Regions from separate parts of the Homo sapiens genome. Here regions 1 and 2 are each linked to region 3. Evidence: fine-mapped expression QTL. A gene starts in region 3. Each other region holds a variant in brackets. All regions are shown on one strand. Distances are between the middles of the regions.

Region 1 (4,191 bases), 97 kb before region 3:
TGAGTCGGAGACAAGGGCTAGAGAACTGGACAGGGTTTCACTGCTAGACAAAACACTGGAGAGGAGCCCAGCGGGAGGGAACCCAGCAGGGTGGGGCACAGCAGGGTGGGGTGCAGGGCCCCTGAGCTCATGTCTGGACACGGCCTGTATCCTGTGAGAGCCATCCAGGGGAAGACAAGAGGCAGTTGCACATGTGGGTCTGGAACTCAAGACAGCCAGGAACACATTTGGGGAGCGATTAATACGGGATAATAATCCTATAATCCTAGATATTGGAGTGTGGAGAGCCCCAAAGGTGAAGGAAACTAGAAGAGACTATCTTGTTGGAAAGAGCATTTGTTGAAGGAGGTAAAGAAGATGTCAGGTAAAAAAGAGATGTTGATGAACTGGACATCCCAGTGAAGTCAAGGAATTGGTGTTTGAAAGTGTCCATTGGACCAGTGAGGAGGGCACTGGTGACCCAAGATAATGTTCCCCGAAGATAACATTGTTAGGAATGATGGAGACGCGTGTGCCTTCGTGGTGCTGGGAAGTGTGAAGACAGGGCTCAGAGCGTCATAGCTTTTGAGGTCAGCATACTCTGCGTTGGCAGGTGACTGGTTAAGGGCCTGGGGCAGGTATAGATTCACAGGTTTGCCTAGCTCTTAAAGCCTGAGGTCAACACAGATTCCAGTAGTCTGAGTGCATTCCTCCAAAAAGCCACAGATGCTGCATGTCGGGACCACACCAAATCCAAAGACACACAAAAAAGTGGTGAAAAGGGGTGGAGGCTCTGGGCAGAGCCTTGACTGTAGCTCTGTAGCTGTCCAGTGGTGTGTCACTCAGAGGGAAGCCCTTGTTTAGCTCTGGTGTATATCCTTCCAAGCATTTCCTATAGATGCAGATTTTTAAAACAAAAGCAATAGTGTGTCTACCATTCAGTAATCTGCTTTTATTACTTACTCAAACATAGACCTCCTTCCGTGTTAAAATAAGTCTGTATCATCATTCTTAAGGTTGCATGATACATCTTTTGGCTATCATACCATAACATAGTTTCTGCCGTTTTGCTATGAGACACCACTTGTTCTCTTACTTGATTTTTTTCCTTGGAATATATTCTTCGGGGTGGAGTGGCTAGGCTGCGGATGTGCACATGAAAACTGACCCAAATGCGACCCAAACAGGCACAAAGGAAGTGCCTGTTTCTATTCCCTGTAGTGACACGTGAGCACCTGTTGTTTTCTCCTCTTTGGTGTCTCTTACTAGTGACCTTGACCTTCATTTTGTGTGTTTATTGGCTGTTTGCATTTTTTCCTATGCCTATTCAGGTCTCCTCATAGCCTTTTATTGAGGTGTTTCTTTCTAATTGACTAGTGAGCACTATTTATAGATCAGGCATCAATCCCTTTGTCTTTTGGCCGCACGTGATTTCCTCTCTGTCATGTCTGTTAATCCTCCTCCCTTGTAAGAACTTTTCGATTTTTATGAGTCGGCTCTGTTAATCTTTTACTGCATGACTCCTAGCTGTGATGGTGCATAAGAGGAATTTTCTTGCTGCAGAATTTGCACTTAAAGAGCTAGAAGGGAGGGGACCTACTGTCAAGGGTAGATGTTTTTAGCATGAGGGCAACTTGAAGAAGAGAGGAAAGGAGACAATTCTGGAGGCTGTTAGAAGGGGACCCCCTCACCCCACAGTAGGACACCATTCTGTGTGCTGGGAGCTGCGGACACTGAGGCGAGTATGGATACACAAGTGAAAGCCTGGGCTTGGGCTGGAAGAGATGCTGCCTCCAAGGCAGAAAGGAAGGAGGTAGCGTGAAGTGGGTT[GT/T]TCTGTGGTGGGTCAGTCTAGAGGAGAGGGCAGAGAAATTGAGGTAGGTCATGAGCCAGGGCTGCTTCTGAGTAGATGATATGAGGGCCCTGGTTTGAGCAGCCCCATGGGGAATGGGGCAGAAAATACCCAGGAAAAGCAGGATTGCCCAGCAGTGTTGCTGACTCAGCAGCGTTGGAATCCTCAAGTCTGTGAATCCACCTCTCACTTAAGGGATGTTTTTTTCCTAGTTCTTAGCTGCACTGGCCCAGAGGAGGGGACAAAGCCACCGGGCTTGTTCAGGTTTGGACCTGATGTCCTCCCTGGAATGACAGGAGTGTGAAGGCTCATAGTGCCTGGTCAGCCCTGGGCTCCAAGTTGACTAGTGAGAAAATCAAGCTTGAGGTTCATTTTGAATAGTTAAAAATTTTAGATTAAGATATCACTATAAAGCCTAATCATAGGCTGGGCATGGTGGCTCATGCCTATAATCCCAGCACTTTGAGAGACCGATGTGGGCTGATCACCTGAGGTCAGGAGTTCAAGACCAGCCTGGCCAACATGGCAAAACCCTGTCTCTACTAAAAATACAAAAATTAGCCTGGTGTGGTGGCAGGCACCTGTACGCCCAGTCACTTGGGAGCCTGAGGCATGAGAATCACTTGAACCCAGGAGGTGGAGGTTGCAGTGAGCCAAGATCGCGTCATTACACTCCCGCCTGGGTGACAGAGTGAAACTCTGTCTCAAAAAAAAAAAAAAAGGCTAATTATGGCCAGGCACAGTGGCTCACGCCTACAATCCCAGCACTTTGGGAGGCTGAGGTGGGAGGATTGTTTGAGCCCAGGAGTTCGAGCCCAGTGTGGGCAACATAGTGAGACCCTGTCTCTACAAAAAAATTTAAAAATTATCTGGCTGTGGCGGCACACGTCTGTGGTCCTAGCTACTCAGGGAGGCTGAGAGGGGAAGACTGTTGAGCCCGGGGGTGTCAAGGCTGCAGTGAGCTGTGATCATGCCACTTGCAGATCAGCCTGGGCAACAGAACAAGACCTTGTCTCAAAAAAAATTTTTAATTTTAATTTTAAAAAAGCCTAATTGTAATAAATACCTGGGATAGACTTAGCCTTAAGTGTTGTTGATCTTTATGGTCACTGTTTTTGTACATATTTGCAAAAGAGGGGAAAAGAATGTTAGTTCTATAAATCCTTCCAACTGTACCAGTACCCACAGCCTCATCCTGTCAGAACATGAAAACCTGTAAGTGATACAATCCTGCCTATTTCTTGGAGAAACATTGTAAAGTCTGCATGTATACATATTTAAAAGTAGTAGTCAGTCTAATATAATAAAGCCTATTTTTATTTTATAGGTAAAAAGAATGAATGCTTGATTTGTAAAGCTCCTTGTCGTACAGTTTTGCTTTCAAAGCATGTAAGTTGAAATGTGTCGTATCTGCATCTTAATCACAGTCATATTTCCTTTTAAATTTGATATTTAATTTTTAGTCATTTGTGGTGTCTAAAATTTTCAGTCACTTTGCTCCGTTAACAAAGATATCTGAGTAATCAAAATGCAGTTAGGATTTAGTTTTTAAAACTTAATTTTTAAAACTTTCTTAGCTATAGATTGACCTTATTCCTAGGTTGTTGAATCGTGCTGTGTTCCTGGAAATGAAAGTGGGTTAAATAGATTTCTGCAGCACAATACAGGCACCTTAAGAGGGTGATAGAGTTTGGATTTGTATAGGGGTCATATATAATTAAGAGTGTTGTTCATAAAGTAAGTTTAAAATCAATTACTGCTGCAGGCTTAAAACAATGCCTTTTGTTCTCTCTATAAAATATTCAGTTTAACTTGTTATTGGTATAAACAAATGATTGGTCTTTTCTCTGCCTGATCTCCAAAATGTGCATTTGGTCTGATGATTTAAATATAATAGTTGTTTTTTTGTGATTACAAACATAATACAAAGTTACACAACATTCGTATAGTACAGAAAATTATAATGGCAAATGTGTAAGTCCTGCCGGGCGTGATGGCTCATGCCTGTAATCCCAGCACTTTGGGAGGCCAAGATGGGCGGATCACGAGATCAGGAGATCAAGACCATCCTGGCCAACTCAGTGAAACCCCATCTCTACTAAAAATACAAAAAAATTAGTTGGGCGTGGTGGTGGGCGCCTGTAGTCCCAGCTACTTGGGAGGCTGAGGCAGGAGAATGCGTGAACCCGGGAGGCGGAGCCTGCAGTGAGATGGCGCCACTGCACTCCAGCCTGGGTGACTGAGCGAGACTCTGTCTCAAAAAAAAAAAAAAAGTGTAAGTCCCCAGATCCTGTTTCCCAGAGATGACAGTGACCAGGAGTTTGGTACCTATTCTATGTGTGTTATTGTGATTTACCTTTTCA
Region 2 (4,191 bases), 39 kb before region 3:
GAAAACTTTGCCAAGAAATATTGCCCCGGGGCTGCCCGCCACTGCCTCACCCTCTCTCCAGGCAGCCCCGGGCCCTTCTGTCTGGGGGCTGATGAGTGGTCCCTGATTTTAAAATTGCAATTTCTTCCATCACTTCACCTTTCTAGACATAAACTTGAAGCCATACTTGTAGCATTTCCTGTTCTTTATTGTTGTTGTTTTTCACAGTTGAGCCTGCATTTGGCCAGGGTCCACCCTGCAGCACCTGGTTCTGTCCAGACATTCGCTAGGGGCAGCCCTTGCGCCTCGATTTGCCACTGGCCCACCTCAGCACACCTTTCTTTGTTTTCCAGTGATTGTCACCAGAAAAGTCACAATTTAGTAAAACATCCAGACAGTGGCACAAGCTTACTCCGTGGATGGAGGTGACAGCACTGCCGAGGCGGAACTCCCGCCTGTCCTCATGCAGTGCATGAAAGCCCACGTTCAGCCCAGGAACAGCAGCGCAGGGCCTGAGGGATGATGTGTGAAGGCACGAGCTGTGTGAAACAAGACTGTGAAAGCCCAGGGCCAGCCGTGGGGTCATAATGGAGCAGCAGAGACTGGCAGGGGGGCAGGACCACGGAGGGGCAGTGCCCTCAGCTCTTCATGCGCGTCCTGGGCTAGAAGTGGGCGGCACCTTTTCTGCAGGCTCTGCCACTCCCACGTGTGGGTGTACAGCAGCCAAGCCTTTCCCCCACCCCCCACCGCCTGCTGTGAGTTGTCCTGCCCGGTGGTGTCTCGTGGGCTGTGCTGCAGGCAGTGGGGGGCTGCCTCCACCACTCACGGTGCAGCTGTGATTCAGGGCCAAGACATAACCTTGGGCTGAGTCCCCCACCGCTGTGCAGCCTCAGGCATCATCCCTCAGGCCCTGCGCTGCTGTGAGGACAGGTGGGAGTTCCGCCTCGGCAGTGCTATCCATCGGCTCTATCCACAGAATAGCTTTGTGCCACTGTCTGGATGTTTTACTAAATTTTGCCTTTTTTGGTGAAAAAAATGGTTCCCTGCTGTATTAGTCTGTTCTAACGCTGACATACCCGACTGAGACGGGATAGTTTATAAAGGAAAAAGGTCAAATGGACTCACAGCCCCACATGGCTGGGGAGGCCTCATAGTCATGGTGGAAGGCAAAGAAGGAGCAAAGGCACATCTTACATGGTGGCAGGCAGAGAGTGTGTGCAGGGAACTGCTCCTATAAAACCATCAGATCTCATGAGACTTATTCACTCTCGTGAGACCAGCATGGGAAAGACCCGCCCACATGATTCAGTTACCTCCCATCGGGTCCCTTCCACAATGTGGGAATTGTGGGAGCCACAGTTCAAGATGAGATTGGGTGAGGACACAGCCAAACCACATCACCTGCCCATCCAAGCACCACGTCCACAGTTCAAGATGAGATTTGAGTGGGGACACAGCCAAACCACATCACCTGCCTGTCTAAGCACCACGTCCATCTCATCAACCAGCACAGCAAGGCCCTCGTGGTGACAGCATAGGGAGGCAGATGCCAACAAGACATGTGGTTCGAGCTCTCTGTGTGTGTTACGGGAAGTCCAGAAGTGCCAGGGGAGTGGACACGTTGCTCATTGTGATTTTTATTTTCTCACTAAGCTTCTGAGTTTTGAGGGAAAAAATATTTGAGACTAAAACTAATGTTTATAGACAGATGTCATTAATGCTGGGTGGGATTTGGAGGAAATGCTGGAGAAGGAACTCTGCCAGAAGGAAGGAAGCCGTTCACTGGACTGATTAGTGCAGACGGACTCCGTGAGTTCACACAGCATTCTTCAGGAAAATAATGTGATGTTAGCTCAACTTGACCACATTTTGTTTGCTTCAAGATGTTTGCCACTAATAATGCTGTTCTCTGCAAATTAAATGAAAAAATGGTCATTTTGCTGGCAGTGTGAGAATGTTTAGTTTCATAGCTGGTTAACAAACAAAGGCAAAACACTTCCGGGTCAACAGTGGCCTCAGCCACATTTCCATCCATTCCCGTCCGAGCGACCCGCGGCCTCTGCAGCAGTGCTGGCCGGCAACACTG[G/C]AGGGCGCTAGACCAAGGGAGCCTGAGCGGTGCCCGCGCCCGGCTGGGTTTGTTGCCCCAGGAAAGCGTCTGTTTAGTGCCGCCCGCCGAGTGTGAAAGCGTTGAGCAACTCAGCAAAGCGACGACCTGGGCTGATGAGGCAGGATTGGGAGCGCGTGAAGGCAGTGCCCAGCAGGCACAGCCAGCGCTCGTGCCGCGCCATCCGCCAGCTGCCTGGCTTATCCACAACCAGGGAAGCAGCGGGGCATCCTCAAGCTGCCCTGTGTGGGGTGCTGTCTGTGAAACAGCAGCAGCAAACCCAGAAGCCGAGGTTAGACACTCAGCATGCGAGGAAAGCACGCAGAGGCGGAGGCCGCGGCGCTCAGAAACTGCCGTATTTAGAGATCACGCGGAGCCATAGGGTAAGTCTTTAGACTGGATTCTTGTTTCTACAAGTAGTGCAGACCCCCACCATGGTCCTTCAGAAGCAAATGCACAGCGTGGACATAAAACGATGAGACCAACTGTGAACTTCTCAGGGTGGCTTCACAGCCTGGGCTGTGCCTTACGATGCATTGTATTCAAAGGTGCCCAATGATGTGATTTGCACCTAATCCATTGACGGGTAATCAGCATTTTACTCCAGTAGGTACTAAATCAATATTTGACTATTTCTCTCCACCATCATGGCTCCCGATTCCTCGTGGCCCCAACTGTGGCAGACACCTGGAGATGGAGTGGCTGAGGGGCGTCCCCAGGCCTCTCCCCAGCTGCTGGGCCCAGCCTCCACCTTCAGGCGCTCCCCCACTCATAGCACAGCACCTTCTAGACCTGTTTCTGGTCTTTCAGAATTCCTATTTTGTTGGACTGAGGTCCTTTGTTTTGATTTTAATAAAAATGGGGTCACACTTAGCCTGACCAACATGGCAAAACCCCGTCTCTACTAAAAATACAAAAATTAGCCAGGCGTGGGTGGCACACACCTGGAATCCCAGCTACTTGAGAGGCTAAGATGGGAGAATCACTTGAACCTGGGAGGCAGAGGTTGCAGTGAGCCAAGATCACGCCACTGCACTCCAGCCTGGGCAACAGAGTAAGACTCTGTCTCAAAAAAAAAGGGGGGGTCACACTTGAGGTTGTTCCATGGACTGGCCCCTTTGTTTGGCGTGAGCTCTTGTAGCTCACTCACAGAAGTGAACCACGACTGCGTGTTCCGCTCTGAGAGGCACCGCGGCTTCCTCTCTTCCCGTCACAGACAGTGCAGCCATGAGCACCACTGCATCGTCCTTGGCGACGAGCCAGGCCCGGGGGTCCTCCTGGGCTGCATCTCCTGCCGGGCACCAGCTTCCTCCGCCCCTTCGGCACTCGCCAGCCAAGCTGCAAGGGGCACACTGAGGAGCAGACAGGCAGCGCTTCCATGTCGGCGCCATGCCCAGCACCCTGACGGAACACGTGACCGAGGACACAGGTGCAGGGGGAGGCAGGGGACTAAGACCCTGAGCAAGTCATGAGCAGGCAGCACCCTAAGACGCTGTCCCAGGACAGCCAGGAGGTGAGCAAGGCTGAGGGAGGGGAGCAGAAGGCCAGTCTCAGTGCTGGGGACTGTGTAGGACCCAGGCAGCCTGGGGTGAGGGGGTGCTAGGGAGGGGAGAGGAGAGGTTGGGAGGTCTGGAGGGGCAAGGGTGACTAGCGTTCCAATGATTCCCCTGATGAGTTCTGCCAGTCCCGACAGGACGGTGTTGGAGGTTCAAGGCTCAGAGCTGCCACAGAGGAGGGCGTCAGTGAGGAGATGGATTTGAGCATCGCCTGCCTGAGTGGTGGGACAGAGAGCCAGGATCTGTGGCCACAGGGGAGGCCGGGCCCCGGGACCCTGGGCAGGAGCTGCTGGCTGTGCTGGGGGGCAGTGATGGAGAAGAGGGCAGGAAACCCGAGGGAAGCTGAGTGACAGGGTTTGGCTGTGTCCCCACACAAATCTCACCTTGAATTGTACTCTCCATAGTACCCACGTATCAAGGGCGGGAGCAGGTGGAGGTGCCTGGATCATGGGGTGGCTCCCCCATGCTGTTCTTGCAATACTGCGTGAGTCTCATGAGATCTGATGGTTTCATCAACGTCTGGTACTTCCCCTGCTTGCACTCACTCCGTCC
Region 3 (4,191 bases):
ATATGATCTGAGTGTAGCGATGTGCCGATTCCAGAACTTATGACCCAGCGGGAAATGGCTTTTCAAAAATAACCCAAGCCCTCTGCATGCTGGTCCTTGGCCTAACGAAGGTGCACAGTGGGCTGTTCAGAGCAGGAGAAACACACTTGGATGGACCTCGCGCCCTAGTCCACGCTAGGAAAATCAGCACAGTCCGGAAGAACCTCCTCCCCACCTCCACCCAAACCACAGAGGCCCCTGCCCTTGGAAAGCAGCTTGATCCCAGCTCCCCAGTGCCGCCAGGGCCTTTGCCACGCAAAGCCAGGGCTGGATATCCTCAGCCCCAAGGCCGCAGCTGAGGAGGACGAAGGCGAAGGGGGTGGCCGCTGGGGCGTCTCCACGAAGAGGCGGGCTCTGCCGCCCACTGCCATGGCTGACCGTGGCCATCCACCAGTCAGCTTCAGCCCCAGCCAGGAAACATGGCAGGACAGAGGCCTCCAGAGCCTCCCTGGCCGAGTGGCCAGAGGACAGGCAGGTGTAGGGATTGGGGAGGCCAAACAGATCAAAGAGAATGCAAGTCCAGGCCGCTGGCCATGGTAGGGGCTCGCCCAGTATGGCCTGAGTGCCCACACAGCCCAGGACGCTGCCGGGCCCTCAGAGCAGCCGCTCAGCCAGGCCCATGTGGGCAGGCGGGGGGTAGGGGGGGGTGCTGTGGCATAAGGCCCACCTGGTCACCGCCCGCCACCCAGCACCCGAACGTGCCCATATAAGGCCAGGTTGGATGCGGCGCGCTTGCTGGGCGGCAGGGGAGGGGTGCGAAGCCTCAGGACTGGTGGACACAGCGCGGACAATCCTGAGTGGTCAACACGCCCAAAGGGCCGGCCTGGCCACAGGTCCCGCCTAGCCATGGGGGCAGCCAGCGCTGTGCCCGGATCCTGGAACATGGCGGGCATGAGTCTGCGGGCACACGTCACCCATCGGCTCCGGATGTCCTTGCTGGGGCTGGGTCCCAGGGCATGGCTGCCACTTAGATGTCGGTGCCATGAGCACGTACCAGGCCAGCACAGCGTGTGCCCAGAGGCACGCAGTCCTGGGGTGCGTCACGGCTCTGGGGACTTGTCCACACAACCGCCCGGCACTGCCTGCCTAGAGCTGGGCAGGCCCAGGGCACACGGCTAGGTCGGCTGGGGGACTGGGGGTCTGGGGGTCAGTTTCAGTCCCAGACACCAAGTATATTACCAATATCTCCCATAGCCCATCCTGCCTTCCGTGGGGGTCTCTGCAGGTTCCCAGAGTCCTTATCGGGTCCACTGTGGCCACAAACCGCCCACTCCCCAAGAATCCACAGGTGATTAGCTGCCCTGGACTGCAGGTACGAGTATGAAAGTGTTTGCAAGACCAGGAGCATGTCCTGGGGAGCCAGGACTAAAGCCCACCTGGCCAGCAAGCACGCATGAGGGGAACCCCTCCAGCCAGCTAGGGGAGCCCCGGTGGGTGCTGTGGACAGCCCATGGGTGAGGGGGCCCTGGAAGGAAGGGGGCCTGGCGAGCGGGGCGGCAGGGGCGGGGCATGGCGCGTGCCAGGCGGGCACTGTGGCAGGGTTCAGGGCCGGGCGGGAAGGGGGCGGCGCTGGCGGAGGCCAGGCTGGCCGGGCTGGGCGCCAGAACTCACCTCGGGCGGCGGCGGCCGGCGGGAAGGCCCCCAGCAGCAGCGGCGGCAGCAGGAGCAGCAACAGGGGGCTCGGCGTCATCTCGGCCTGTCCGGACCTGGGGACATTGGGGGCGCCGTCACTAACACGTGGAACTGGGAGATACCGCCCTCCCCGGTCCCGGGCCGCGGGGATCAGGGGTCTGGCCGCCCTCCCCACAGGCCCTCCCCGCCCGCGCTCCAGGCGGAGGAAGCCGCAGCGGGGAGAAGCTGTGGGTATCAAAGGCAGACAAAGGGTTTACACTAATTACCGGGCTCCCCCGCCGCCCCCCCTCTCCAAACACCGTCTGGATTCCTGGCGCTTGTAACTCCGGCCCTGCCCGCAGGACACACAACACTCAGCGCCCCGCAGATAATCGCCTGCGCCATTAGCGGACAAATTTGCGCTGGGGGGGGCCCACGTGGGGCGCGGGGGCGGGGGCGGGGCAGGCCGGGGGCCCGCAGGAGCGGCGGCGGCGCGCATGACCCGTGCCCAGCTGGGGCCCCGAACCCGCCCCTCCCCGCCCCCGCCCCGGACCCCCGCCCTCCCCCGTGTGCCCACCTGGGGTCGCGGCCGCGCGCGCGGGGGGCTCACCTCGGCGGGGGGCTCAGCGGGCGGGCGGCGGGGTCAGGGCCGGGCCCGCGGCGTGCGCTCCGCGGTCATCGCCGCCCCGGGCGCCGCATCCCGCCGCCCCGCGCCCCCGGGCCCGGTCTCGGGGCGGGGCGGCGCTACCTGGGCGCGGGCGGCTCGGGCCGGGTCGGGGTCCGGGCTCGGGCGCTCGGGGCGCGGGGTCCCGGACCGGGCAGGCGGCGGGGGCGAGTCCGCGGGGCCGGGGGCCGGGGCCGGGATCCCGGGGCGGCGGGGCGAGGGGCCCGGGGCGCCGCGCCGCGAGGCGTCCTTCCCTGCGGGGCTTTGTCAACTCTCCCGGAGCGAGCGCCGAGCCCGGACCCCCGACCCGCCCCCGGCACAACTTCCGGCCAATCCGCGCGCGTCAGCCCTCCCCCGTGCCCCGCCCCGCCGCCAAACTTTTCCCCAATCCGCGCGCGCACACCGCCCCCGCCCCGCCGGGCTCCCGGCCTTAACCCTCGCGGTGCGGACGTCCCCGCGGGCGGGCGGCTTCCCCGGGTCCGGCCCCGCCCCCGCCCCCGCCCCGCCCCAACCCGAGCCTCGCCGCGCCCCCGGCCCCGCCCGCGCGCCCTTGGTCCCCGCAGGCTCCTAGGACCGGCCAGGAGCCGCCGCGCCCTCCCCATACCTGCGCCCGCGCGCGCCCGGGTCGGGTCCTCAACTCTCGAGACACCTCCGCGACCCCCAGAGCAGGCTCCGGCCCTGCCCGCGGCAGTCTGACCTCTGCGCAGCCCCGGGCCGGGCCCAGACCGCTCTCTGGTTGCTCAGAAGGGGGCGGACTGGACGGCCGCGGGAGCTTCGAGGCTTCCAGGTCTGCGCCCCGGGGGGTCTTCGGGAGCAGAAGGGAGAAGCAGGGCCTCGCCCAGCCGGAGCTGCTGGGGACGGGGTAGGGGGGGACGGCCGCGGCGATGCAGGCAGGGGTCCTCCCCGGGGCGTTCGGGTTACCTGGTGCCTTTGGCCAAAGGTATGTTCCCACCTGAGGCCTCCCAGCCTCTCACCTGCTAGTGACGGGAATGACAAGAACATTAATCATCGTAATAGACGTCAACATGCGATTCAATCTCCGCTACCGGGCAGGCGGCCCCAGGAGCAGATGAAGAAACGGAGGCGTGGAGAAGACAGCGCCCAGCTCTTCGCGGCTCTTCCTCCACACGCCTCGCCTGCCGTCCCTGCCCAGGGCCCAGCACGCAGGGCTCCCAGGCCGCACCTCCAGCCGCCCCATGGCCTCCCCTCATCCTGCCTCCCAGTCTTGCAACACAAACCTCACGGCCTGCCCACATCCCGCCTCACACCCTCGACTCCGCGGAGTCACCATCCCAGCACCTCCTCCATCCCCCAGAGCAGCCTCTCTTTCTGGGGCCTGAAGCCCCCTCTTCCAGGAAGTCCTCCCAGGAAAGGCTGAAACTGGAGAGGCCTGGCAGCCGGTGTCCCCAGGCCGAGGAGAGCTAGGCGGGGCGTGGGGGGCGCCAGCTGTCAGGGTGTGGGACTCCTCAAGGCCCGAACTACCCGGCCGTCCCAAGGTGCTGGTTCCCAGCCCAGCGTCCTCCACCCCAAATCCCGCGTCTGGGCCAGCGTGGGCGTCGCGAGGGCGGATGGAGGTGCGCTCGGACGGCCCATCCTGCCCCCGCTGGCGCAGCCGCCGCTGTGCACCCGGGGAAGGGTCCAGGGACCGCCGCGTGGTCCTCCCGGCGGGAGAACGTCCTGCGCCGCCGCCGCGGCCCTGTCCCACAAGGAGCCAGCAGCGCCGGGGCCCACCTGCCGCCCTCCCGGCCGGAGCTGCAGTCACGGACAGGTGGGTGGGGCGGTCTCACGCCCGTGGGAGAGCGGCGCTGAACTTCCCGGACAGCTGGCGAGGAGGCAGCGCTCCCACAGATGTGCGGGCTGCCGGACACAGGTGCGTG

Which allele goes with the higher level. Positions count from the first base shown, and alleles are read on the strand shown. Sizes are in standard deviations (SD) of each study's normalised expression. Not every link is listed here.
For the expression in fibroblasts of the gene that starts at base 2,589 in region 3, GT is the high allele of the variant in region 1 and T is the other (small effect, 0.17 SD a copy in GTEx).

The links. PIP is the estimated chance that this variant, and not a neighbour inherited with it, causes the effect.
Region 1: its variant is fine-mapped to the expression of FGFRL1 in fibroblasts (GTEx, PIP 0.95).
Region 2: its variant is fine-mapped to the expression of FGFRL1 in tibial nerve (GTEx, PIP 0.97).

What each region holds. Positions count from the first base shown.
Region 1 is chr4:1,107,369-1,111,559 of GRCh38, reverse strand. RNF212 (ring finger protein 212) reads left to right here. Exons shown (of 10, transcript NM_001131034.4): 2 at 3,156-3,217. Among named protein-coding and RNA genes, the nearest start is that of RNF212, 4.1 kb to the left of the region's middle. The variant GT/T (reference allele first, on the strand shown) is at 1,810.
Region 2 is chr4:1,048,912-1,053,102 of GRCh38, reverse strand. LOC105374343 (a long non-coding RNA gene) reads right to left here. Exons shown (of 2, transcript XR_001741546.1): 2 at 1,597-1,888. Among named protein-coding and RNA genes, the nearest start is that of FGFRL1, 39 kb to the right of the region's middle. RefSeq lists an enhancer at 1-338. The variant G/C (reference allele first, on the strand shown) is at 2,066.
Region 3 is chr4:1,010,024-1,014,214 of GRCh38, reverse strand. It overlaps FGFRL1 (fibroblast growth factor receptor like 1), which reads right to left and starts at 2,589. Exons shown (of 7, transcript NM_001004356.3): 1 at 2,261-2,589; 2 at 1,651-1,745. The coding sequence starts at 1,729. RefSeq lists enhancers at 1-65, 3,634-4,191 and silencers at 1,848-1,917, 2,597-3,116, 3,947-4,016.